Linked DNA regions of Homo sapiens. The protein of the gene in region 6 purifies or fractionates together with the protein of the main gene of each other region. This does not show direct contact. Each region holds a gene or a part of one and is shown on either strand. Other genes may lie near its edges. The genes, in order: OSBPL8, GLG1, GPC1, MTNAP1, NDUFAB1, HADHA and LAMA4.

Region 1 (3,500 bases), on a different chromosome or scaffold from region 6:
AAATAGGGATAATAATACCAGACTTCACAGGGTTGTTGTAAGGTGTATTTAACATACAGTCTGGCACAAATTAATTACTCAATAAATGTCTGCTGATACATTATAGTAATATAGTAAAGTGGATGACAGGGTGAATTAAGGAGCCAAAAAATCTGCATATATAACATACATATACCTACTTATGGGGTATGTGACCTTAGGCAGGTTAACTTGTGTCTCAGTTTCTTTTCTCGTAAAATGGGAATAACAACAATACAACCAATACTCTCTTCTAACACACTGGTATGCCACATGACTCCTGCTTTTAAACCTTTATTCGGTTCATTCCTCTAACTACTCTAGTATGTTACCCCTACCCCACTCTCCAAGCCTAGATTGCTATAATCCATTAGAAATCTTAATAATTCATCAGGATTCTAAGAACTTTCCCTCAAACTGAATTGAGCTCCCTCTCCTTTAAACTCTTTATCACTTGTCATCTAATTTCTTAGTAATCTACCATTTATTCACTTCTAGTGTTATCTTTATAGGTTAAAATGAGCTCCCTAGTTCAGTGTAAACTCAGTAGAGATTATGGCTTAAAGTTTTTTTTTTTTTGTCATGTCACAAACATCACTTTAATCCTTTCATGATTATATCTCAATGTAGTTCAAGATACTTTACACATTATCTGACTCGAATAAGAATGGAGTACAATTTAAGCTAGCAGTTGCTAAGTTTTATATTTTTATTGTCTGTCACTTCCAAACACTACAGTAATTTATTCTGGAAATGAAAAACATTTTTGAAGCATGGAACTGAGTTCAAAGCTCAAAAAATGCTTCTGAATTCAATCTAGGGAACCATCAGCAATTTTTCAGAGGTTAACAAGGCATAAGAGGTAGCTACTACTAGAGTGTGGTTCTTTTTTTTTTTTTTTTTTTTTTGAGACAGGGTCTCACTTTGTCACCCAGGCTGGAGTGCAGTAGTGTGATCTCGGTTCAGTGCATCTTCCATCTCCGGGGTTCAAGCAATTCTCGTGTCTCAGCCTCCCAAGTAGCTGGGATTACAGGTGTGCACCACCGCACCTGGCTAATTTTTTCATATTTTTAGTAGAGACGGGGTTTCCCCATGTTAGCCAGGCTGGTCTTGAACTTTTGGCCTCAAGTGATCTGCCCACCTCGGCGTCCCAAAGTACTGGGATTACAGGCATGAGCCACCACACCCTGCCTAGAGTGTGGTTTTTATTTAGATGTCTCCCCTTTTTCATTTTCTGTTTCTTTACCTTGCGTCCTGGTCTCACAACTTATCTATGATCTAGAATTGCTTTTGTATCTCAACCCTGCCCCGACCAAAACTCACATAACTTGAGTTAATATGAAAAACCATATTCATATCAAATTGTGTAGTAATTAAAAAGTTAGACTCTCATTAGTCTGCAATAAATATTTTTACCTTCACTTCCAGAGGAGTCTTGAATGTCAGGTTCTGGGGAGGAATAGCCTTTTGCTACTTTCTTCTGTTGCCTGGTTGGCTTATGTTTCATTTTGGGGACGCTAACCTAAAGAAAAAAATAACTATTTTGTGAATTTGCACTGTATTTTGGACTAAAGACCAACTGTGTACAATTGTCAAAATTATCTGCACATAGGCATGATATTCAGAAATAAAGACAATGATGAAATAGTCTAATTCAAATTTAACAAATGTGATGCACTTATGCAATCAAATGATCTTATTTTAATAGGAAGTACTTTGGCACAAATGTCAAAAAGTAAAATACACAATGAAGAGTATACCCAGTCTCTCTCCCACTAAATAGGTACCCATCACTATTAGTTTATATCCAGGGATATTATTATGTATACATAAACAAATATGAATATAGATCCCCCTACCTCTGACTGCACCAGCTATTATTATTCTCTAGTAGAATGTTAAATAATAGAATGTTAAATAATAGTGTGTATAAATCATATTTATTTTGTTCCCAATGTTAGAAACATTCCCACTGAACAATGCTGGGTTTCCAGTAAAACGGTTTATTTACTTTTAATCACATCTGGGTAGTACAGAAAGTATCTTATAATAAATAAAAATGATACCATTATTTTGTAGAGCATTATTTAAACTTACTGAAAGGATTGAAGTGGATGCACAAGATTCAAAAGTATATGAAACCATCAACTATGACTAAATTTTCCTTAGAATAATAACTTTGGACTCTATCCTATTAATAGATTTGTAATTTTGGTGTTCAGTATTAAACTTAAAAACCTAAATGCAAGAGAAGAAACTAGAATCAGAAAGACAAGATGTATTAGTCAGTTTTTATGCTCCTGATAAAGACATTCCCGAGACTGGGATGAAAAGGAGGTTTAATTTGACTTATGGTTCCACATGTCTGCAGAGGTCGCAAAATCATGGCAGATGGCAAAAGGCACTTCTTACATTGTGGCAGCAAGAGAGAATGAGGAAGATGCAAAAGTGGAAACCTCTGATAAAACCATCAGATCTCGTGAGACTTATTCACTACCACGAGAACAATATGGGGGAAACTGCCCCTATGATTCAAATGATCTCCCACTAAGTCCCTCCCACAACACGTGGTAATTATGGGAGTACAATTCAAGGTGAGATCCCACCAAGTCCCTCCCACAACACGTGGGAATTATGGGAGTACAATTCAAGATGAGATTTGGGTGAGGACACAGAGCCAAATCGTATCATTCTACCCTGGCCCCTCCAAATCTCATGTCCTCACATCTCAAAACCAATCATGCCTTCCCAACAGTCCCCCAAAGTCTTAATTCATTTCAGCATTAACCCAAAAGTCCACAGTCCAAAATCTCATCTGAGACAAGGCAAGTCCCTTCTGCCTATGAGCCTGTAAAATGAAAAGCAAGCTAGTTACTTTCTAGATACAATGGGGGTACAGGCATTGGGTAAATACAACTGTTCCAAATGGGAGAAATTTGGAAACAAAGGGGTCATAGGGCCCATGCAAGTCTGAGATCCAGTGGGGCAGTCAAATTTTAAAGCTCCAAAATTTTAAAGCTCCAAAATGATCTCCTTTGACTCCACGTTTCATATCCAGATCATGCTGATGCAAGAGGTAGGTTCCCATAGTCTTGGGCAGCTCCACCCTTGTGGCTCTGCAGGGTATCCCCTCCTGGCTGCTTTCATGGGCTGGCGCTGAGTGTCTGCGGCTTTTCCAGGTGCACAGTGCAAGCTGTTGGTGGATCTACCATTCTGGGGTCTAGAGGACGGTGGCCCGCTTCTCACAGCTCCACTAGGCAGTGCCCCAGTAGGGACTCTGTGGGGGGCTCCGACCCCAGATTTCCCTTCTGCACTGTGCTAGCAGAGGTTCTTCATGAGGGCCGTGCCCCTGCAGCAATCTTTTTCCTGGGTATCCAGGCGTTTCCATACATCTTCTGAAATCGAGGTGGAGGTTCCCAAACCTCAATTCTTGACTTCTGTGCACCACAGGCTCAACACCATGTGGAAGCTGCCAAGGTTTG
Region 2 (3,500 bases), on a different chromosome or scaffold from region 6:
CCAGCTACTCGGGAGGCTGAGGCAGAAAAATCACTTGAACCCAGGAGGCAGAGGTTGCAGTGAGCCAAGAATACGCCATTGCACTCCAATCTGGGCGACTGAGAAAGATTCCACCTCAAAAAAAAAAAAAAAAAAAAAAACAAAAAAAAACAGTGACAGAAATTTCAAGCTAAGAATAGCAGAGCTGTGTTCCACCCAAATCTAAATCCTAATTTTGTCTTATTACACTGCCCTAAAATAATTTACTATCTGTATGACATCAAGTGATTAACACTCTTATATAATCGCTTCTCGATCACAACAATCTCACTTATCAAACCAACTGTAAGCAATGGTGGTGTCTTAAAGTACTAGTGTCCTTCCACAATGATAGGTGTATAATAGAAGATCAATAATGACTTGATTATGTGGTTAGATTGCTTCCAACCAGACAGACAGCATAGGAGGAAATTCCATATTGGCTCAAACAAAACAATCATAATATATCCTAAAGCCAAACAATGTTTGGATTAATTGCTGTTTGAATTATTCATTGTCACTGATTCCCTCCATGAATGAATATGGAATCAGGAACTGGTACATATATAATCCTAGAAACTTTACAATATATACATACCCAGAGAATATATACAGGAAACGACTCATATAAGTTAGACAGCAGAGATCTTAGAAACCGTACTGTAGGGGCAGGGTGTGGTGGCTCCGCCTGTAACCTCAGCATCCGGGAGGCAGAGGAGGGTGGGTCGGTTGAGCTCAGGAGTTAGAGACCAACCTGGGCAACCCGGCAAGACCTTGTCTCTCTTAAAATTAAAAAAAAAAAAAAGTATACCCCAACTACTCATTTAACACATCAGGAAGCAGAGAGAGAAAATGCTTACAGTCATTTGTTAGTTAATGGCACTGACAGCTCTAGTCTCAGTTCACTTTTTGTGATGTTCCATGGATTCAATATAAATATCAAGGAAATACAACTAAATGCTTCCAGTGTTCTAGTACAAATCCTGCTTAAGGTGAGTTGGGATTTGAAACTCTTTTCATAAAGCAGAAATTCGGTTTATGATGCACTCAGACTAATTAAATTAGCGTTGGGTGATAACGCATTTGCCTGAGAAATCTACAAATACTTCAATGCACTGTTACAACTCAGTTGTTCTTGTGTCCCATTTAGCATACATTTATAAACCTATGGCATTCTCAACAGTCACAGACTAATGTCCTTAGCTACAACCACCCATGGTACATTAGAAAGAGTATGGTCTTTTAAGTCAAAAAGGACTTCCTGAACACCAGCTCTACCACTTAGGATATAACATCAGACAACTTACTTTAGCTCTTTGAGCCTATTTCTCTGCTAAAAGAATAACACTAGCACTAGCACTAGCACCTCATTATCATTATCATTGATAATGATAGTCATTATCAACAGTGAGACAATAGAGATGGTGTAGTCCACTATCTCAAGTATACAGTTAAGTGAAAGGTTAAAAGCAGAGTATAAAAATATTTACCTATGAGTCTAAAAGGGGGTTTATGGTTTGCAACACTGAAATGTTAATTCCTGTTCAATACCTAAATTAGTTTATTTAAATATTTACAAAGCATTCACTCTGTGCAAAGCTTAGAGCATGGCTACAAATTTATAATCTGAGACTGATATATCAAGAAAAGGTGGCAAGAAAGAATTTTTTTATGTTTTTCTTTTTAGTGTCAGAATTACTTGCAAAAGAAAGATTATACATTTAAATACAAAAACAAACAAAAAAAACCTTCTAGTTTTTAAAAAGTATTTATCACAGACATGCTTGAAGTATTTGAAATGACAGTATCTGGGATTTGCTTTTAAATATGCCAGCCTCCCAACCCTGTGCCCTAAAAATAAAAGGGCGGGGCTGGGCGCGGTGACTCACGCCTGTAATCCCAGCACTTTGGGAGGCCGAGGCGGGCAGATCACGAGGTCAGGAGTTCGAGACTAGCCTGGCCAATATAGTGAAACCCTGTCTCTACTAAAAAATACAAAAATTAGCCGGGTGTGGTGGCGGATGCCTGTAGTCCCAGCTACTTGGGAGGCTGAAGCAGGAAAATCGCTTGAACTCGGGAGGCTGAGGTTGCAGTGAGCCAAGATCGTGCCCCTGCACTCCAGCCTGGGTGACAGAGTGAGACTCTGTCTCTCAAAAAAAAAAAAGGGTGGGAACAGTTGAAGCTGGGTGATGTATACCCAGGGACTCATTACCCTATTCTCTCTACTTCTGTGTAAGAAAATCTATGGGGCACGCACAATGGCTCATGCCTGTAATCCAGCAGTTTGGGAGGCCGACGCAGGCAGATCACCTAAGGTGAGGAGTTCAAGACCAGCCTGGCCAAGGTGATGAAGAGGCTGAGACAGGAGAATCACTTGAACCCAGAAGGCAGAGGTTGCAGTGAGCCAAGATTGTGCCACTGCACTCCAGCCTGAGCAACAGGGCAAGACTTCGTCTCAAACAACAACAACAACAACAACAGCAGCAGCAGCAGCAGCAGCCAGGCGCAATAGCTCATGACTGTAATCCCAGCACTTTGGGAGACCAAGGTGGGCAGATCATGAGGTCAGGAGATCAAGACTATCCTGGCCAACATGGTGAAACTCTGTCTCTACTAAAAATACAAAAATTAGCTGGGCGAGGTGGTGCGTGCCTGTAATCCCAGCTACTTGGGACGCTGAGGCAGAAGAACTGCTTGAACCAGGGAGTCAGAGGTTGCAGTGAGCCGAGATCACACCACTGCACTCCAGCCTGGCAACAGAATAAGACTCCGTCTCAAAAAAAAAAAAAAAAGAAAATCTAATCTATGAACATCACAAACTTTTTATTAGAGACGGTGTCTCACTATGTTGCCAGGCTGGTACTGAACTCCTAGCTCAAGCAATCCTCCTGCCTCAGCCTCCCAAAGGGCTAGGATTTCAAGTGTGAGCCACTGCGCCCGGCTGAACACCACAAACTTCTAAGGAACCAAGGTCTCCATCTGAAACTTCGAAATACAAGACACTAGTGGAAAAAAAAAAAGTGCTACTGGCCATTTCAACCAAGAATAAGTAAAGTATTTTAAAATGACTGACAACATCAAGCATGCCTTCCTTATCACATACTAAGCAACAGTATCTTCTCTTTCTTTGGTATTATTACTCCACCTACTAGAACAGCCCAGGGAATATTTTTTCTTTTCTGCCTTACACTTTCTAATTTTTTGTTTTTATTTAAATAACTTGAACTACTAATAATTATACACACACAACTAGGACTACTAACACACCATTACTGGCTATTACATCTATTATTTCATAGTGGACCCATGATATACTTGGCCTTTTTAAAAGCATGACTCATCCGAGAGCGTTAAAAAAAAAAAAAAAGAATCCCAAGGCCAGGCACAGTGGCTCACAACTCTAATCCCAGCACTTTGGAAAGCCCAGCTGGGAAGATCACTTGAACCCGGAATGTGGAGGCTTCAGTGAACTCTCAAACCCA
Region 3 (3,500 bases), about 210 Mb from region 6:
AAATGAGGGCCGTCTGGGCTGGCAGGCCCTGCGAGTCAGGCAGCGACCACCACGAGCTGGGGCAGAGCAGAGGCCTCCCCTGACTTCCCTCCAGAGCCCCCTACCCTGGGGCTTCGTTAGGGGCTGGCCGGGGCCAGGCACCCCCAGGGCCTCGGGGCCTGGCTTAGGGTCCCTTGCTCCCCAGGTCCCCCTGGGCCCGGAGTGCTCGAGAGCTGTCATGAAGCTGGTCTACTGTGCTCACTGCCTGGGAGTCCCCGGCGCCAGGCCCTGCCCTGACTATTGCCGAAATGTGCTCAAGGGCTGCCTTGCCAACCAGGCCGACCTGGACGCCGAGTGGAGGAACCTCCTGGGTGAGCCCCCACCCGCGAGAGCGGCCTGGAACTGTCTTGGGGAGTGCACGACTGGGGGTCCTGGGGGGCGGGTGGTCCCTAGCTTAGAGCTTGGACCCAGGGACCTGATCAGGGATGCCCTGACCCGGGCCAGATCTGGGTGGTGCTGCAGGGTTGAGGGGCCAGGGTGCCTTTTGAATGTCCTGAGTGATGTGTGACTTGGGGCAGCTGCCAGGGAGGGAGCCCTGTGGGGTCATAGTTTCTTGTCCTTCCCCACTTAGCAAGCACCTCGGTGTGCATACATGCCAACACGTGTGACTCATCGAGGACCGGCACTTGTTTAAGCTAACACATACATGCACCGTCACATGACAGGCTGACACATGCGAACTGGCGTGCTCACTTGCTGACACACAGTGGGCCAGTGCCCACCAGTACAGCGTGTGCTCCTGGGCGCATGTGATGACATGAGCTGGGCTGACCCGCATCAATGCCAACACGTGTGTGGTAATATGTACATGCTTATCCAGATCCACTAACATGTACACATGCTTACATGAGGGGGGACAGCATGCATCTGTGCCAACACGTGCTAGCATGTGCTGACACGGGGCCAACAGGTGTGTGCTAACGTGATGGGAGCTGACAAAATGCATGAGCTTTACTTGTACATGTGCTCACCGTGCACGCAACACACACATGAACTAAGGTGTACATGGGGGGGGCATGAGGTAAGCCAGCATGCATACACACCAGCTCACACGGGCTCATGTGCACACAAGCTGGACCAAGGTGAGCCAGCGTATGTACATGTCAACACCTGCATGAGCCAGCGTGGACATACGAGACACGGCAGGCCAGCAAGCATGCAGAATGGCCTCTGTGTATGTGCGTGTTCACCTGTGCCCGTGGCACAGGTGCACACGTGGGTGTGGGCCAAGCTGAGTGCACGTGGCCTGCACATGTCACACGGGCCAACCTGAGTGCACACGTGGGATCTCCCATGCTGACCCGTGCTGTCAAGACTGCATTAACATGCACACGTGGTGACGCCTGCGTGTGCGTGTCAACGCCTGTGTGCGCGCGTTAACGCCTGTGTGTCCGCGTGTTAACGCCTGTCCTAGACTCCATGGTGCTCATCACCGACAAGTTCTGGGGTACATCGGGTGTGGAGAGTGTCATCGGCAGCGTGCACACGTGGCTGGCGGAGGCCATCAACGCCCTCCAGGACAACAGGGACACGCTCACGGCCAAGGTGCGGGCAGGAGGACGTGACGAGCACAGCGGGGTGGGGGTCCTGGATGTGGCCCCATTGGGCTTGAGGGGCCCCACTACCCCCCAAGGACCCTGCAGTGTCTCTCCAGGTCATCCAGGGCTGCGGGAACCCCAAGGTCAACCCCCAGGGCCCCGGGCCTGAGGAGAAGCGGCGCCGGGGCAAGCTGGCCCCGCGGGAGAGGCCACCTTCAGGCACGCTGGAGAAGCTGGTGAGTGGCCCCTGCGTGTCCACTGGACCAGGCATGAGGGAGGCAGACAGGCAGAGGCGGGCGGGCCCTGGCAGCCCAGTGGCCTGACTGCTGCCCCACAGGTCTCCGAAGCCAAGGCCCAGCTCCGCGACGTCCAGGACTTCTGGATCAGCCTCCCAGGGACACTGTGCAGTGAGAAGATGGCCCTGAGCACTGCCAGTGATGACCGCTGCTGGAACGGGATGGCCAGAGGCCGGTAGGTGCCCACCTGGCTGGCACAGCCCTCCCTCCCATGCCGCCTCCATTGGGCTGTGCCTGGGCCAGGTGCTGTCTGCACGGGGCCACGTCCCTTGCTGGAGGGCTTGAGCCCCACTTCTCTGCGGCCTGTGTGGGCTCTGCTCGGTCCCTGGAAGCTGCTGGGCATCTCAGGCTCAGAGCGTGGGAGAGTGTCCTGCTCAGGTGATGGCCCTTTGCAGGGGCTGGAGCAGTGACCTGGGCTCTGCCTGCCTTTCCCCCAGGTACCTCCCCGAGGTCATGGGTGACGGCCTGGCCAACCAGATCAACAACCCCGAGGTGGAGGTGGACATCACCAAGCCGGACATGACCATCCGGCAGCAGATCATGCAGCTGAAGATCATGACCAACCGGCTGCGCAGCGCCTACAACGGCAACGACGTGGACTTCCAGGACGCCAGTGAGGGCAGGGCCTGGCCGGGCGGCCAAGGGGCCAGGGTTGGTGGGGGTGCCACAGGGGTGTGACTGCCCTCCGGGTTCCCCCACCCGAGGGGCCCTCTGCTCCGGCATCACCACAGTGAGTCTGAGGACGCTGTGCTGCCCAGGCACGATCACCGAGCCCTGCACCTCTGCGGCGCCCTGGAGGCCTGGCCGGGATGTCTGTTGGCTTTGGCTCCAGGGACCAAGGGAGGCAGCCCCAGGGAGTGAGAGTCTCCCAGCCTCAGGGGTCAGCGGGGATCAGGTGCTGCTGGTCCTGGGATTCCACACCGAAAGGATGTTGGGGTCACCTGGCACGGGCCCTTACAGGGTGGTGCTGCACTGGGGTCTCCTGTGGGGACCTGCCTGCCGGAGCCTCCTCTCCTTCCCAGGTGACGACGGCAGCGGCTCGGGCAGCGGTGATGGCTGTCTGGATGACCTCTGCAGCCGGAAGGTCAGCAGGAAGAGCTCCAGCTCCCGGACGCCCTTGACCCATGCCCTCCCAGGCCTGTCAGAGCAGGAAGGACAGAAGACCTCGGCTGCCAGCTGCCCCCAGCCCCCGACCTTCCTCCTGCCCCTCCTCCTCTTCCTGGCCCTTACAGTAGCCAGGCCCCGGTGGCGGTAACTGCCCCAAGGCCCCAGGGACAGAGGCCAAGGACTGACTTTGCCAAAAATACAACACAGACGATATTTAATTCACCTCAGCCTGGAGAGGCCTGGGGTGGGACAGGGAGGGCCGGCGGCTCTGAGCAGGGGCAGGCGCAGAGGTCCCAGCCCCAGGCCTGGCCTCGCCTGCCTTTCTGCCTTTTAATTTTGTATGAGGTCCTCAGGTCAGCTGGGAGCCAGTGTGCCCAAAAGCCATGTATTTCAGGGACCTCAGGGGCACCTCCGGCTGCCTAGCCCTCCCCCCAGCTCCCTGCACCGCCGCAGAAGCAGCCCCTCGAGGCCTACAGAGGAGGCCTCAAAGCAACCCGCTGGAGCCCACAGCGAGCCTGTG
Region 4 (3,500 bases), on a different chromosome or scaffold from region 6:
GCACAGAGCTACGTAGGCAAATCACTCTACCTCAAGCCCGTTTTCTTTTTGGAAAATGAGCAGGATAGCACCTACGCCACAGGACTGTTTGAAACTAAAAGGAGAAAACACATGTAAAAAACCTTGCATGGCACTCGGCACAAAGCAAGCCCCAGATGTTGGCTGGATCTGCCTGTGGATTGCAGTAGGGCCTCTCTTCCTCCGTTCAAGGTTGGAATTTATATATAGTATGATGGCACATACTACAGGCTTTAGAACAGCTGCTGTCAATGAGTTCCTACCATCACAGACGTTGCTGGAATTAACACATGTAAGACTTCTAATCTCACCAAATGTCTGCAAAGTAGGAATAATTATCCCTAAATTACAGTACAAAGGAGGCTCCAGTAAACTGGGTAACTTACCCAGGGACACACCCACCCATTTCACAGGTGAGGCTCTAGAAGAGGCATATAATCAGCTCAGGGGAGTACTTTTTATATTTTACAAATAATTTTATTATGAAGAGTGGCGGAAGTAGTATGTAGATGCCCCATAAAGTATAAAAGAGTCTGCTGATAATAAAATGATTTTATTTTTAACAGCTAAAATAAATTTTAATGTGCATTAGAAAAACTACACATTCCCAAGTAAACTCAGTCTTTCAGATATTATTCAGGATTAAACAAGGCCGCCCCGAGGTTAATCCACTTACACAGACCACGTGTGAGTTACAGCCGGGGTATTCAGGCATGTCCGTGAATATTCCCAACTTGTAGTAACAGAACCTTCAAATACGTCCTCTCAAGCATGGACAGTAGCCTGGGTGTCACCATGCCTCTTCTGCGGGATGGATGGGAAGGTGAATATGGATTACGTGTATGGATTCTCACGCTGCATTTGTATGCACCTTGCAGGAAGATTCGGGAATTCAAGCTGCTGCCTGGAAGCAAGATCTAAGCGTTGCTTCTTACCTAGCGGGGCACTCCAATGCCACAGACAGGGCAGAACACGACTTTTACCCCCTCCTTCTGCAGCATGATTTTAAGAGACAAAACTTATAAGGCTGTTTAAAATGGTAAATCATGTTAGAGACGTTCTTTTTCTTTCCTTGGCTCTGTGAAGAGATGAGTAGTTACCCCGCCTCACACCTGAAGCGTACTGGCTTCTGTGGGTAGCAGTCTTACTTGTCTACTATTCGTTCTGAGGAGTCTTGTCTTTCTGGATGAAGCTTTTAATCTGGTGATCACATACATGATTGGAACTGGCTGTGCAAATGAACTGATAGGAATTTTGCATACATGAGCGAAAAATGTATCCTCACGAGGCAACTTTACATCAGTATTGCACCCTGGAGCTGTGAAGTGTGCTTCCTCGTCATGCTGAGTTTGTTTAGATCTAAATCTCAGAAAATAATCAGCTATCAGTTTACCTCAACAACGCTCTTAAACTATTCTGAACATTAAGAAGAGATTCTTGAAGGACTTGAGAAAACATCTTCAATTATTTTCCCAACCCAGGTGGCAGCAATGAGCAGACAAGGAAGCCTTTCCTTCCATTACTCTGTAGACATTTACAAGTCATCCCAGAATGTGGAGATGTTTCCAATGGCTTCTTGAAAGTTATCCACACTACTGTATTGTGGATTCTCAGTATCTAATTCAAAGAAGTCAGTGGAGACTTTTTGTTGTTTCCTACTATATGTGAGTTAGAATTCTTGGTACTTACCAATGTCAAACAAAAAAGCTGTCTTCTTATTAATACAGGATCTCACCTTTGCCTTAAACTTGGCAATACAAGGCAGATATCCTTTTAGGACTCATGGATCATTAAATAGTTCTATTCTCATTAAATAACTTATTTTCAGGGATATAAAATATTTACTGTGACTAAGTTAAACCTTTTCATTATGTTTCAGCACCCTGATTATGACAAGTGATACTACTTTATTTATAGCAGTGATACAAATGCTCCTGATAACCTTGAGGGCTGAAAAGCTATCCCTTAATGCTACCACTACACTTAGGTGTTACAGGGCAATTCAGTGGGCAACACAGGGCACGAAGGCACTAGAGAGAAGTCACGAAGGCTTCTCCTACTTAAACGTGCTTCCTAATCCAAACATGTTTTAGAGCGGCAATCCCCAGTCGTCTTCGCCACACCAATGCATGGAGGTACTGTGCTCTTCCAGGGCAGGGGTCGGCACAATTTTTCTGTAAAGGCCAGATAGTAAATATTTTCAGCTTTTCAGGGCATATGGTTTCTGTCGCAACTACTCGACTTTGCTGTTGTTGTGTGAAACAGCCATGGATGCCACCTAACCAAATGAGCAGGGCTTGTTTTTGTACATTTTGACTACATACAAAAACAAGGCAGTGGGCTGGCTTTGGTCCGTGGGTCACAGTGGGGTCTGCTGCCCCTGCTCGAGGGAACTGGGGGACCGGGAAAGAGGGTATTACTGAAGGTCATTCTCATCTACCTTCTCACCTTGAGAGTTTCTGGTCTTGAGTAAGGACACATGGGGAGGTGTGGAGAGAATCCTTAAGCATCTCTCCTAAAGAGCATTCACAGAGAATGGGCACAAAGCTCTTTCGGCAGGGAAGATTGTTCTGGGTTCCAATGAAGTTCTTAGTAATATTAAACTAAAATAACTGAATGTAGAACTCTTCCCCTCAACCACAACTTTTTTCCTTACAGAGAATTCTAGGATACAGGGATATATTGCTGAATACCTTAACTATGAGAATTTGTTGCAGAATTAAATTACTCCCACTAGGGATGGAAAGGAGCAGGGGATTGGGAATAGAAAAGGTAGGTAAAAAGTAGCCCCAGCATTCCAGCTTTGAGAAGAGAGAGAAACGACATACAAGTCAACACATGCTGGCTGTGGCTTTCCTGTAGGTTTTTTGGGATTTTTGAGACAAGGTTTCACTTCCATCACCCAGGCTGGAATGCAATGGCACAATCTCAGCTCACTGCAGCCTCCGCCTCCTGGGCTCAAGTGATTCTCCTGCCTCAACCTCCTGAGTAGCTGGGACTACAGGCGTGTGCCACTGAGCTCAGCTACTTTTTACAATTTTTTTTTTGTAGAGATGGATTTCACCACATTGCACAGGCTGATCCTGAACTCCTGACTTCATGATCCGCCCGCCTTGGCCTACCAAAGTGCTGGGATTACAGGCGTGAGCCACCGCACCCAGCATTCCTGTAGTTTTAAAAGAGCTGGGACATAAGAGGAACTGACCTCATGTATTTTGGCATGAGGACACCACAAGCAAAGCTGAGACAGACGGGTGTGTGCGTGTGATATATAACTAACCCTCTACGTTAGAAAGGAGGTTGGGGAAACACTTATCCATCAACGTTGCCTAAATTTCCTCAAAGCTTTTTCTACCTGTAAGTATCCAAGTTACTCTCTGTGGGCCAAAGCAGAAGTCAAAAAATCAGACACTGAATAGTTTGATGAGATGAAGAGACACAGAAAACCCACCAGCCAAAAACAACCCTAACAAATGGAGAGG
Region 5 (2,902 bases), on a different chromosome or scaffold from region 6:
AGGCGCTCCTCACTTCCCAGACTGGGCAGCCGGGCAGAGGCGCTCCCCACATCTCAGACGATGGGTGGCCGGGCAGAGACGCTCCTCACTTCCTAGACAGGATGGCGGCCGGGAAGGGGCGCTCCTCACTTCCCAGACTGGGCAGCCGGGCAGAGGGGCTCCTCACATCCCAGACGATGGGCGGCCAGGCAGAGGCTGCAATCTCGGCACTTTGGGAGGCCAAGGCAGGCAGCTGGGAGGTGGAGGTTGTAGCTAGCCGAGATCACGCCACTGCACTCCAGCCTGGGCAACATTGTGCACTGAGTGAACGAGACTCCATCTGCAATCCCGGCACCTCGGGAGGCCGAGGCTGGCAGATCACTCGCGGTTAGGAGCTGGAGACCAGCCCAGCCAACACAGCGAAACCCTGTCTCCACCAAAAAAATACGAAAACCAGTCAGGCGTGGCGGCGCGTGCCTGCAATCGCAGGCACTGGGCAGGCCGAGGCAGGAGAATCAGGCAGGGAGGTTGCAGTGAGCAGAGATGGCGGCAGTACAGTCCAGCTTCGGCTCGGCATCAGAGGGAGACCATGGAAAGAGAGGGAGAGGGAGAGGGAGAGGGAGACCGTGGGAAGAGGGAGAGGGAGAGGGAGACCTTGGGGAGAGGGAGAGGGAGAGGGAGACCGTGGGAAGAGGGAGAGGGAGAGGGAGACCGTGGGGAGAGGGAGAGGGAGCTGGGTTTCTTTTACACAATGGTGATGGTTGCACAATGTGAATATACTAAAAACTACCAAATTATATGGTATATACAAGGAGGAATTTTCTATTATGTGAATTCTATCTCAACAAACAAACAAACAAACAAACAAACATACCTCCAAAGCATCGTACCCAACCTGTATGCATACTGTCTAGAAGCTAACTGGCCCACAACCTATATGGGATTCAAGGTTGCTGAAAGTTTTGATATACTTGTAGCTGTTGTAGAAGGGTCAGGTGTGTTCAGTTCTAAAGGATTTTTTTTTTTTAACTCTCTCACATTGTTGTATATTTTTCTTTTAGGGTTTGAAATTCCTGATATAGATGCTGAAAAGTTAATGTGTCCACAAGAAATTGTAGATTACATTGCAGATAAGAAGGATGTATATGAATAAAGTATCAGGTAAATAGACTTAAAAAATGATGTTCACCCATAGATTTGTCTGTGGTTCTTCAATAAAGGAAACTTAAGAAGAAACAGAAAATGGAAATGCTTGACCAAGATTTTTCACTACTTATAAAATGCAAGCCCTTTCCTGTTGTCTGCCACTCAAAGGGGCCCAGCCCTGGTGGTGATCTTTGAGAGGTTGAGAACTGTCATTCCTGGATAGAACTCCCTTGATTGTCAGCTGTCCTCACAAAAGCAGAACATTGTACAAAGTACTGAACAGGGTAACCTGGAAACAGACCTCTGTCTCCCTCAATTACTCAGCCAAGGTAAGCCCAGCCTGCTGGGTAAGACACTGAAGTGACCTGGCTCTTAAGTAGGCAAGAGAGGCCTCATGTATAAGAGGATGGACTTTGGAGTCAGAGACACCCAAGTTTATTCTCAGCTTTGCCACACACTATAAGCCTGGTGGTCTCAGGCAGGCTGCTTAGCTCTGTAAGCCTCAGTTTCCTCATATGTAATATGGTGGTAATGATAGGACCTACCTGGGGCTTTTGTGAAAGCAAAATTGAAGAGAGTATATATATCACTTGATATAATGATGTAAAGAAGCCTCTCAGTAAATAGTAGCTTTTGTTACTTGGGACCTAGAATAATCAAATAAGACTTTTTGAATTAAAACATTGTATTAGTGTTTTTAGTCTTTAGCTTTTAGTGACCCTGCATTTTTTTTTTTTTTTTTTTAAAGATGGAACCTTGCTCTGTTGCCCAGGCTGGAGTGTAGTGGCACAATCTCGGCTCACTGCAACCTCCGCCTCCTGGGTTCAAGCAATTCTCCGGCCTCAGCCTCCTGAGTAACTGGGATTACAGGCGTGCACCTCCACGCCCAGCTAATTTTTATATTTTTAGTAGAGATGGGGTTTCACCATGTTGGCCAGGCTGGTCTCGAACTCCTGACCTCAGGTGATCCGCCCAGCTTGGCCTCCCAAAGTGCTGAGATTACGGGCATGAGCCACTGCACTCAGCCAGAGGCTGCATTTTTAGCACCTGAAAGATGTCACTTATCATTAGTAAGAATACATCAAAAATAACATTGAACTTATTTTGTCTTTTCCAGACCCTTTGGCTTTGCTGAGAGAGGACTCAGATGATAGTGACGAATGTCTGGCAGTGAGGACACATTTTGGCATTCTTGCTGACTCTGACAGAGTGATTCTGATGGACTTGTATTTAAATTGTATGTGTTTTACTCTTTGAAAATAAATCTATAAAACCAACATTTTCCCCCATCTTCAGTTTTTCAATGATGTCTATAAAGTGCTTTTTTATGTTTGTATACTGACATTGCTTAATATTTTTAAAGGTCTGATTTGTCATTTGTATTCATGCATGTCAAAAACAATGGCTTCCCCAGCCATGTACTTGAAGTAAGGCTGTCTCCCCACCTTCGTATCAGGAGTGAATATATTCATGGAAATGGACTTTTTGCTTCAAAAAAAACTTTGTTTTGGTTTCCATTAGCTTATTATCAGATGTGTCAGCTGATATCAGCAGGTGGGACTAGTTTTTCATCACTGTCCTAAAGATCCCTTTTAATACAGTTTAACAGTTTTGGAGAATGGGAGGCTCTCTTTCCTCCTGGAAGGTCAGTTTGACATTGCCACACATCAAACCACAGTTTGATTTGTCACACATCATTATTGGTTCTGCCCCTTTTACTCTTAGCACTGTGTTGGTTCCTTGGGGTTGATGTAAATAACATGTATGCATTGCTTAG
Region 6 (3,500 bases):
TGAAGGCTGAGGTGGAAAGATCACTTAAGCCTAGGAATTCAAGGTTACAGTGAGCTATGATTGCACCACTGCACTCCAGCCTGGGCCACAGAGCAAGACCTTGTCTCTCTAAAAAACAACAACAACAAACTTATAGCCAGAGGCTTAGATGTAATAAGACCTAGATGGAAGCAGTTGACAACTATCACAAATTAAGGTAAATAAGAGCCATTCCCCTTTACTAGAGTAAATTTTAGCACTCACTAACCAATGATTCAAGCTTAAGATATTTTTTCAGAATTTTCTTAGGTTGGACATTTTTCCTGAACACAAAAGTAATATATGTCAATGGTAGAAAATTTTTCAACTATAAAAAATTATAAAGAAGAAAATAATAAACATTCATAATTCAAACCTAAAGATAACCACATCTTTTTCTTGGTATCTTCCATGGGATAATCACATTTAATTCAGTTTCAATGAATAATATTTACAAAACTAAGATCATACTATATGGTTTTTTTTGAAGATAGGGTCTCATTCTGTTGCCTAGGCTGGAGTGCAGTGGCACAGTCACAGGTTAGTGCAGCTTCAGCCTCCCCAGGCTCAGGTGATCCTCCCACCTAAGCCTCCTGAGTAGCTGGGACTATAGGCGTGTGCTGTCAGGCCCGGCTAATTTTTGTATTTTCTGTAGAGGCAAGGTTCCATTATGTTGCCCAGGCTGGTCTCGAACTCCTGAACTCAAGTGATCCGCCCACCTTGGCCTCCCAAAGTGCAGGGATTACAGGGATGAGCCACCATGCCTGGCCTATATGTCTTATTTGTATTTCATTTTTTTCTTAACATTATGCAGATTTTTTCCATGCCAATAAATGTTTGTAGACCTATTTGTTTATAGCCTACATATGATTCAAACTCTGAGGATGACCCTGAGTTTCTCCTTTGAGAAGACCTATTTTTAAAGGAAGGGGTGCTTGTAGTGGGCCAAAGCTGCCTGAATAGAAAGCTACTGACTTGCTGGGAGAATGATATTTCTTACTCTCTTCTAACAGTATATTTCTGCCGGATAAGTATATTTCTTATAATCAAAATAGCATTTGATGGTGGTACGTACATCCAGTGCTTCAAATTTAAACCCTTACCTGTATATATTTCCCTTTGGCAGGTAAATACACTGAGTAAAGAGCTACATTCAGAGTTCTCAGAAGTTATGAATGAAATCTGGGCTAGTGATCAAATCAGAAGTGCCGTCCTTATCTCATCAAAGCCAGGCTGCTTTATTGCAGGTGCTGATATCAAGTAAGTTTTAGGAAACTTGAAGTCACCTTTTATCTTGGTTAATAGTGTGTTTCTTAGGCCTAATAATTTCTCCTTTTAAAAGAAAGTAGAAGTGCTGGGCACAGTGACACAGGCCTGTAAAATTGAAAATGTACGTATCAGGCTGGGTGTGGTGGTTCTTGCCTGTAATCCCAGCACTTTGGGAGGCCGAGGCAGGTGGATCACATGAGGCCAAGAGCTCAAGACCAGCCTGGCCAACATGGTGAAACCCTGTCTCCACTAAAAATACAAAAATTAGGCATGGTGGCACACGCTTGTAATCTCAGCTACTCAGGAGGCTGTGGCACGAAAATCCCTTGAACCTGGGAGGCAGAGGTTGCAGTGAGCCGAGATCACACCACTGCACTCCAGCCTGGGTGACAGAGTGAGACTGTCTTAAAAAAAAAAAGTATATACACACACACACACACACACACACACACACACACACACACAGAGTATATATATATATATATACACACACACACACACACACATCATGTGATCTAGAGAAATCTCACCCCTTGTTTATAAGAACCAGTGTACAAGGATGTTTGGTCCTGTGTAGTGTGAAATAATGAAGAATTTAAAACCAAATGTCAGTCAGTAGGAAAATGGGTAAGTAAAATGTGGACTATTCACACAATAGAATACTACAAAACAGGTAAAAGGAATTAACTAGATCCACAATATGATGTTAGAACTCAAAAACATAAGGTTAAGTTAAAAGAAAAGCAAATTGCAGAATGTTTCATACAGTATATAGTTTCTATAAATGTTTTAAAACCAAACATGGAATAATTCTTGATACTATTTATGGACACAATCGTAGTTGGTCTGGAAGGAGACACTACAAACATGAAGATGGCTGCTTTGGGGAAATGAAGTGGGTGGTAGGACTTGATTGTTAAAGGCAGCTTTACAGATGCAGCTAGTATTTTCTTTTCCTCTGCTAAATGGTGGAATGCATGCCTACATTAACTTATTTACAATTGTTTACACATACATAAGGAGGGGAAATGATATTTTAGTGTCAGTTTAATAGGTTAAAATGTTAAGTTGTCAATTCCATTAAAATATGGGTATTTGTTATGTTCTTTGTATTTTAGACAATGATAGCCAGCATTGTAGGTTTAGTAATTTGTACTGAAAGTGTAATTATTTATGTGTAGTAATCAGTCTCTTGTTAGGCACAAATAATTCAGCTAGAAGAAAAACCACTTGATAAGATAATTTTGGGTCTTCTAAAAAATTAACATTAAACAGAACATTTATAAAGTCTAACAAGACACTGATGTACCTGGCAGTAGCTACCTATATCCAGAGGAAAATACATGTAGCTTCTATGAGGCCAGCTGAGCAACTCTCAGTGTATAAAATTACAGAATATACTAGTTATCCTTGGTCAAAAGTACAAAATCCATATCCTAAGTGTGTTCACAAAATAGCAAATGAAACAAACTGAAATTAAAGGACATTGAGTGGAACATCATTGCACCTGATCATTTTTATTTACTTATTTATTTTTGAGACGGAGTCTCCCTCTGCTGTCCAGGCTGGAGTACAGTGGTGCGATCTCGGCCCACTGCAACCTCCACCTCCCAGGTTCCAGTGATTCTCTCGCCTCAGCCTCCCGAGTAGCCAGGACTACAGGAATGCAGCACCACGCCCAGCTAATTTTTGTATTTTTAGTAGAGACGCGGTTTCACCATGTTGACCAGCCTGGTCTCGAACTCCTGACCTCAGGTGATCCACCTGCCTTGGCCTCTCAAAGTGCTGGGATTACAGGCATGAGCCACCATGCCTGGCCTACCTGGTCATTTTTATTCATTAGTGGGATCTGTTAAAATGTTTTAGATTTCTCTAAACAACCTGGAAGCTTTTCTTTTGCGTCATTTTTATTGCTGTTAACTACCTGATAGTGAAATGTTTAATCTGATAGTGAAGTAATTTACCAAAGATGATTTTCCCTTGTACCAAGCTTTGTAATTTAATGATTTATTACAGAAGTAAAAATAAATTATGCAACACATTTATGTTTTCTGGATCCAGAATTTTTTTTTTTTTTTTTGAGACAGAGTCTCACTCTGTCGCCCAGGCTGGAGTGCAGTGGCGCGATCTCGGCTCACTGCAAGCTCCACCTCCCGGTTTCACACTGTTCTCCTGCCTCAGCCTCCCAAGTAGCTGGGACTACAGGCGCCCGC
Region 7 (4,160 bases), on a different chromosome or scaffold from region 6:
ATGAGCCACCACGCCCAGCCCTAAATGAGACAATTTATGTGATTTTTTTGCACATGGGAGGCACTCAAAAAATAAAAGTGTCCATTTCCTTCACCTCTGAATTCATACTCTTTATTTTAAAGTTGCAGTGTCGTGTATACAGATGTAAAAGAGAGCTTTGGAATCAGTGAGGCCTGGATCCAAACCCCATCTCTGCTTTCCACCAGCTGTGCGACCTTGGGCAAATGTCCTAGTCTCTCTGAACCTCACTTTCTTCTTCTGTAAAAGGAAAATAATGGTACTACTTTGCAGGAATGCTGAGGTTTACAAATAGCATATGCCAAGTATCTGGCACATGTTAGGTGCAAAATAAATGGTTTTGCTTACACTTAGATAAAATGACTTTTGTTCTATGAAATGGAGCTAATGATTAGGTTTTATGGAAAGGCTTTATTTATTTATTTTATGATTAGGTTATACAAAAATGCTTTATTTCACCTGGAAGCTTACCTGGGTGTCATTTTATGGTTGTCTCATCTGACCATTTTTAAACCATGGTTGGATCTTGTGGAAATGTTTAGAGCTCGTTATGAAGCCAATGTAAACAAAGGTACCTATCAGCTGTTGCAGACACTATCCCATCCACAGGGGCACCCCTGACATAGCTGTAGCCCAACTTCACCCTGAAGTCTTGGAAAGGTTACATGATTCAGACAGATGTAGTAGGCATGAGATTACAGGCCAAGAGGAAGAGGCCGGGGCTGTAGGCAGTATACTTGACAGGCTCATACACTGCAAGCCTTGTTCCGGGCCCCTTACAAAGCACCTCTTTAGGATGAAAACAAGATGGTCTTTGTAAATAAAAGTTCATGCATTTGGGTAATGAAGTCATTTTCCAGCGCTGCAGTGAAAGATATTCTTCTCCCAAGCCCTCTGGGTGAGGACTGGAGGGAGGAAGAGGGGTGGCCAGTGAATCTGAAGAGAAGATATTAGCACAAAGAGTGCAACAGTCTATCCCCCAGAAAAAACCCGAGAAACCTTGCTCAAGAAAGTGGGCACCCTGACCCTCTGCCTTCAGAGATCATCTACCTTTGGTTCCTGCCCTGGAATCCCTTTTCCACCCACTTTCCTGCAAACTAGCGGGGGCCACATAAAATATCTATGTAAATATAGATAAGACATCCGGTACCTTGACTACATAAATAAGAGTGGTGAGGAAGCGTCACAAAAGCTGAATATTCTTCTGGAGCCCTTGGAGGGGCTCCAAACTGAGAGGGGAGGGAAGACCGCAGGGAAAGGCGGACCTCAGTGTCTGAAAAGCCAGCTTAGAGTGGGAGGGCCTGGGAGTAGAAGGTAAAAAGGGAGTGGTGAGAATGAATGTGAGAAGGAAGCCAGGACAGCGCAGTCCCCAGTCCCGAACGGCCAGGGAGAGGAGGTGGCCTAGCGCTGGCGGGGCTCACCCCAATCCGTCTGCCTTTTGATGCCGTACTGTAAGCTCCGTCCATCTGTAGGTTCTTGAGCCAGAACCTCTGCGGGAAGGAGAAAAAGTGAAAGAGGGAGAGGGAGAGGGAGAGAGAGGGGGAGAAGGGGAGAGAGAGAGAGGGAGAGAGAGGCTGGAACTCTCCCTTACTCTCGCACTTTCCCTTTATTTCCTAAGCTGCTGGTTGCGCAGCCACCTCGGGATACTGCACACGGAGAGGAGGGAAAATAAGCGAGGCACCGCCGCACCACGCGGGAGACCTACGGAGACCCACAGCGCCCGAGCCCTGGAAGAGCACTACTGGATGTCAGCGGAGAAATGGCTTTGAGCTCAGCCTGGCGCTCGGTTCTGCCTCTGTGGCTCCTCTGGAGCGCTGCCTGCTCCCGCGCCGCGTCCGGGGACGACAACGCTTTTCCTTTTGACATTGAAGGGAGCTCAGCGGTTGGCAGGCAAGACCCGCCTGAGACGAGCGAACCCCGCGTGGCTCTGGGACGCCTGCCGCCTGCGGCCGAGGTACAGTGTCCCTGCCATTGCCACCCTGCTGGGGCACCTGCGCCCCCGCGGGCTGTGCCACACTCGTCCTTCTCTCTCTCTCCGCCTCTTTCCTCTCCCCAGTGCCTTGAGAGTTTCACCTGGGCTAGGTCAGTTCGGAAACTTGAAATAAAGAGTTTTCCTTTGTAAGTTGCATTTGGATGTTGAGAGTTGAAAGTTGAGGCTTCGGAATGTGTCTGCTCAAAGGGGTGAGAGTGCATGTGTTGGTGCTCTGAGTTCATCCGCTAGACTCTCACCGGGGACTGCAGCAGCACATCGGTGACTTCTGCCACTTGCGTGTCCCAGTAGTCATTTTGTCAAGCCACGGCACTTAACGTGTGTGCCCTGTCACTGGCTTCCTGCTCCTCTGTGCTGTTAGGACAGTGGGAACACTACTGCAGGATCTTTTTGTCTCATATTAGACAAGAAGTCTTCTGCAGCAGGGAAGGTGAGGGGGTGAGTGAGAGTGGCTGGTCATGAAAGGAGCTGTTAGACAACTGCTGAGAGGGTATCTTAAGTAGAAACGAGCCATTGTATTCCAGAAACAAGATGTTTCCATTAAAATCAAGCCTCAGGATATGCTATTGATAATATGTTTATTCAAAGAGCTGCTGTTTGAATACCTTACAATAGCTTTTAAGTTGGAAACAAAACCAGAATGTAGAGGTCTGGTAAAGGAGAATGAATCCAGAACAAGTGATTTAAGAACCCCTGAACTGAAACAGACAACAGCATGCCCATTGCATGGGACATGCTAAGAGGGAGGAAAATAAAGTCACCTAAGTTCATGGGAAAGGAAGGAGCAATTGACCTAGCAAAACAAACACCACACTCTATAGCTATGGTTACAGCAACTGTACAACTAAAACAGTTATGTGGATTGACACCATTTCTAACATCACTGATGCATGGATTATTGCTATGAATTCTGTTAATTGTTAGTACAATTATAGTTATTAATTATTGATGATTAAAAATAAGGTGCATGAACATGGTCCTTCTTCAGAGTAAGCCCTACCCACATTGCCCCAAAAAAGAGAGTGGACAGGGTCAGAATATGCCAACCTCTCACTGTGGTATAAAATGTAGCCTCCATGAAAAAGAGGGAGCATGGCTTCTGGTCAACTTCATACCCAGAAACTTGGGGAGAAGCCAGACCAGGAGGGACTTCATGCAATGGGAAGGCTTTGCTTCTCTACAGGCTTGGAATTAACCCCAGGGAAGCATTATCTCCACCTGTTGCTTTGAGCACGTAAAGTCCCTGAATGAAATGCTTAATTTTACTTAAGAGTAAAATTGGCAGATAAATTGCAGGACACTCAAATGTGAATTTCAGATAAATAATGAATGAATTTTGATCACATCCCAAATACTGCAGAGGACATATTTATATTAAAATTTGTTTTCATTGTTCATCTGAAATTCAAATTTATCCGGGCATCCTGTATTTGTATCTGTTAGGTCTAAAGAGACAAGCCATATACAACTGTTTTTTGTAACTCTCATCCCACAAAAAAAATAGGAAAGTAATTTTTTGAGTTTTAGAGAACCTTAAAATTAATGCTAAGACCCTAGGAAATTTCTTATGTGCTCATATGTTTGGTGAAATAATAGGAAGGCAGCACAGCAAAGTGTTTCAGATTGCAGGTTTTCAGTCTGATGGTCCCAAGTTGAAATTTCAAGCTCTTTGACCTTGGTCAAGTTACAGATCCCCAGACTGCAGATAAACTGATACTGACAGAATTTATTGATGCCTGCTTCATACCTCATACTTTTATTGTAATGAAATTAGATAAAATAGAGTGCTTAGCATAGTGCTTGACATAGTATAAATGCCCTATATATGCCAAGAGTTGTTACAATTGTTACTATAAAAAATGTGGATGATGATCAGATTAAAAGAAACCCTTATTTGAGAATATTCCTTAGAACCTTATGTTTATGGTTTTCTTTTACTTAATATTATTATATCTGTTTATCTATATTCTTCCAGCTGGAAAAAAAATGTCACGTAGTGAATTAAATTTGTAGTAATGTCAGAGTCTAATAGGTTCAGAATGCCAGTGGAGGCCTTCAGTTTTGAAAAACAGAAAGAAGATATTAGTCATTCCAGGAAGGTCAAAGTATATGGTGTAGAAAGGGTGAGATTGAGGTAATTATGTTCCCACTG

Evidence for each region.
Region 1: the proteins of HADHA (region 6) and OSBPL8 purify together in Homo sapiens (co-immunoprecipitation; 2 studies listed by BioGRID and IntAct, with this or other methods). This does not show direct contact.
Region 2: the proteins of HADHA (region 6) and GLG1 purify together in Homo sapiens (co-immunoprecipitation; 2 studies listed by BioGRID and IntAct, with this or other methods). This does not show direct contact.
Region 3: the proteins of HADHA (region 6) and GPC1 purify together in Homo sapiens (co-immunoprecipitation; 3 studies listed by BioGRID and IntAct, with this or other methods). This does not show direct contact.
Region 4: the proteins of HADHA (region 6) and MTNAP1 purify together in Homo sapiens (co-immunoprecipitation; 2 studies listed by BioGRID and IntAct, with this or other methods). This does not show direct contact.
Region 5: the proteins of HADHA (region 6) and NDUFAB1 purify together in Homo sapiens (co-immunoprecipitation; 2 studies listed by IntAct, with this or other methods). This does not show direct contact.
Region 7: the proteins of HADHA (region 6) and LAMA4 purify together in Homo sapiens (affinity purification with mass spectrometry; one large-scale study listed by BioGRID and IntAct). This does not show direct contact.

The regions. Positions count from the first base shown.
Region 1 is NC_000012.12:76,357,272-76,360,771, forward strand, and holds part of OSBPL8 (oxysterol-binding protein-related protein 8), read right to left. Parts: intron 1,541-3,500; coding exon 1,435-1,540; intron 1-1,434. UniProt on the Homo sapiens protein: Lipid transporter involved in lipid countertransport between the endoplasmic reticulum and the plasma membrane: specifically exchanges phosphatidylserine with phosphatidylinositol 4-phosphate (PI4P), delivering phosphatidylserine to the plasma membrane in exchange for PI4P, which is degraded by the SAC1/SACM1L phosphatase in the endoplasmic reticulum.
Region 2 is NC_000016.10:74,600,615-74,604,114, forward strand, and holds part of GLG1 (Golgi apparatus protein 1 isoform 3 precursor), read right to left. Parts: intron 1-3,500. UniProt on the Homo sapiens protein: Binds fibroblast growth factor and E-selectin (cell-adhesion lectin on endothelial cells mediating the binding of neutrophils).
Region 3 is NC_000002.12:240,463,163-240,466,662, forward strand, and holds part of GPC1 (glypican-1 precursor), read left to right. Parts: intron 1-184; coding exon 185-350; intron 351-1,453; coding exon 1,454-1,584; intron 1,585-1,693; coding exon 1,694-1,813; intron 1,814-1,914; coding exon 1,915-2,048; intron 2,049-2,310; coding exon 2,311-2,486; intron 2,487-2,895; coding exon 2,896-3,128; 3' UTR 3,129-3,500. UniProt on the Homo sapiens protein: Cell surface proteoglycan that bears heparan sulfate. Binds, via the heparan sulfate side chains, alpha-4 (V) collagen and participates in Schwann cell myelination.
Region 4 is NC_000017.11:73,245,933-73,249,432, reverse strand, and holds the end of MTNAP1 (mitochondrial nucleoid-associated protein 1), read right to left. Parts: intron 2,193-3,500; coding exon 2,092-2,192; 3' UTR 940-2,091; coding exon of another isoform or gene 897-939; 3' UTR 474-896; downstream 1-473. UniProt on the Homo sapiens protein: Critical regulator of mitochondrial DNA (mtDNA) abundance. Binds dsDNA throughout the mitochondrial genome without sequence specificity and controls mtDNA copy number by promoting its replication.
Region 5 is NC_000016.10:23,580,514-23,583,415, reverse strand, and holds the end of NDUFAB1 (acyl carrier protein, mitochondrial precursor), read left to right. Parts: intron 1-1,040; coding exon 1,041-1,132; 3' UTR 1,133-1,140; intron 1,141-2,242; 3' UTR 2,243-2,402; downstream 2,403-2,902. UniProt on the Homo sapiens protein: Carrier of the growing fatty acid chain in fatty acid biosynthesis.
Region 6 is NC_000002.12:26,234,633-26,238,132, reverse strand, and holds part of HADHA (trifunctional enzyme subunit alpha, mitochondrial precursor), read left to right. Parts: intron 1-1,144; coding exon 1,145-1,278; intron 1,279-3,500. UniProt on the Homo sapiens protein: Mitochondrial trifunctional enzyme catalyzes the last three of the four reactions of the mitochondrial beta-oxidation pathway.
Region 7 is NC_000006.12:112,251,768-112,255,927, reverse strand, and holds the start of LAMA4 (laminin subunit alpha-4 isoform 1 precursor), read left to right. Parts: upstream 1-1,360; 5' UTR 1,361-1,469; exon of another isoform or gene 1,470-1,486; intron 1,487-1,636; 5' UTR 1,637-1,777; coding exon 1,778-1,972; coding exon of another isoform or gene 1,973-2,140; intron 2,141-4,160. UniProt on the Homo sapiens protein: Binding to cells via a high affinity receptor, laminin is thought to mediate the attachment, migration and organization of cells into tissues during embryonic development by interacting with other extracellular matrix components.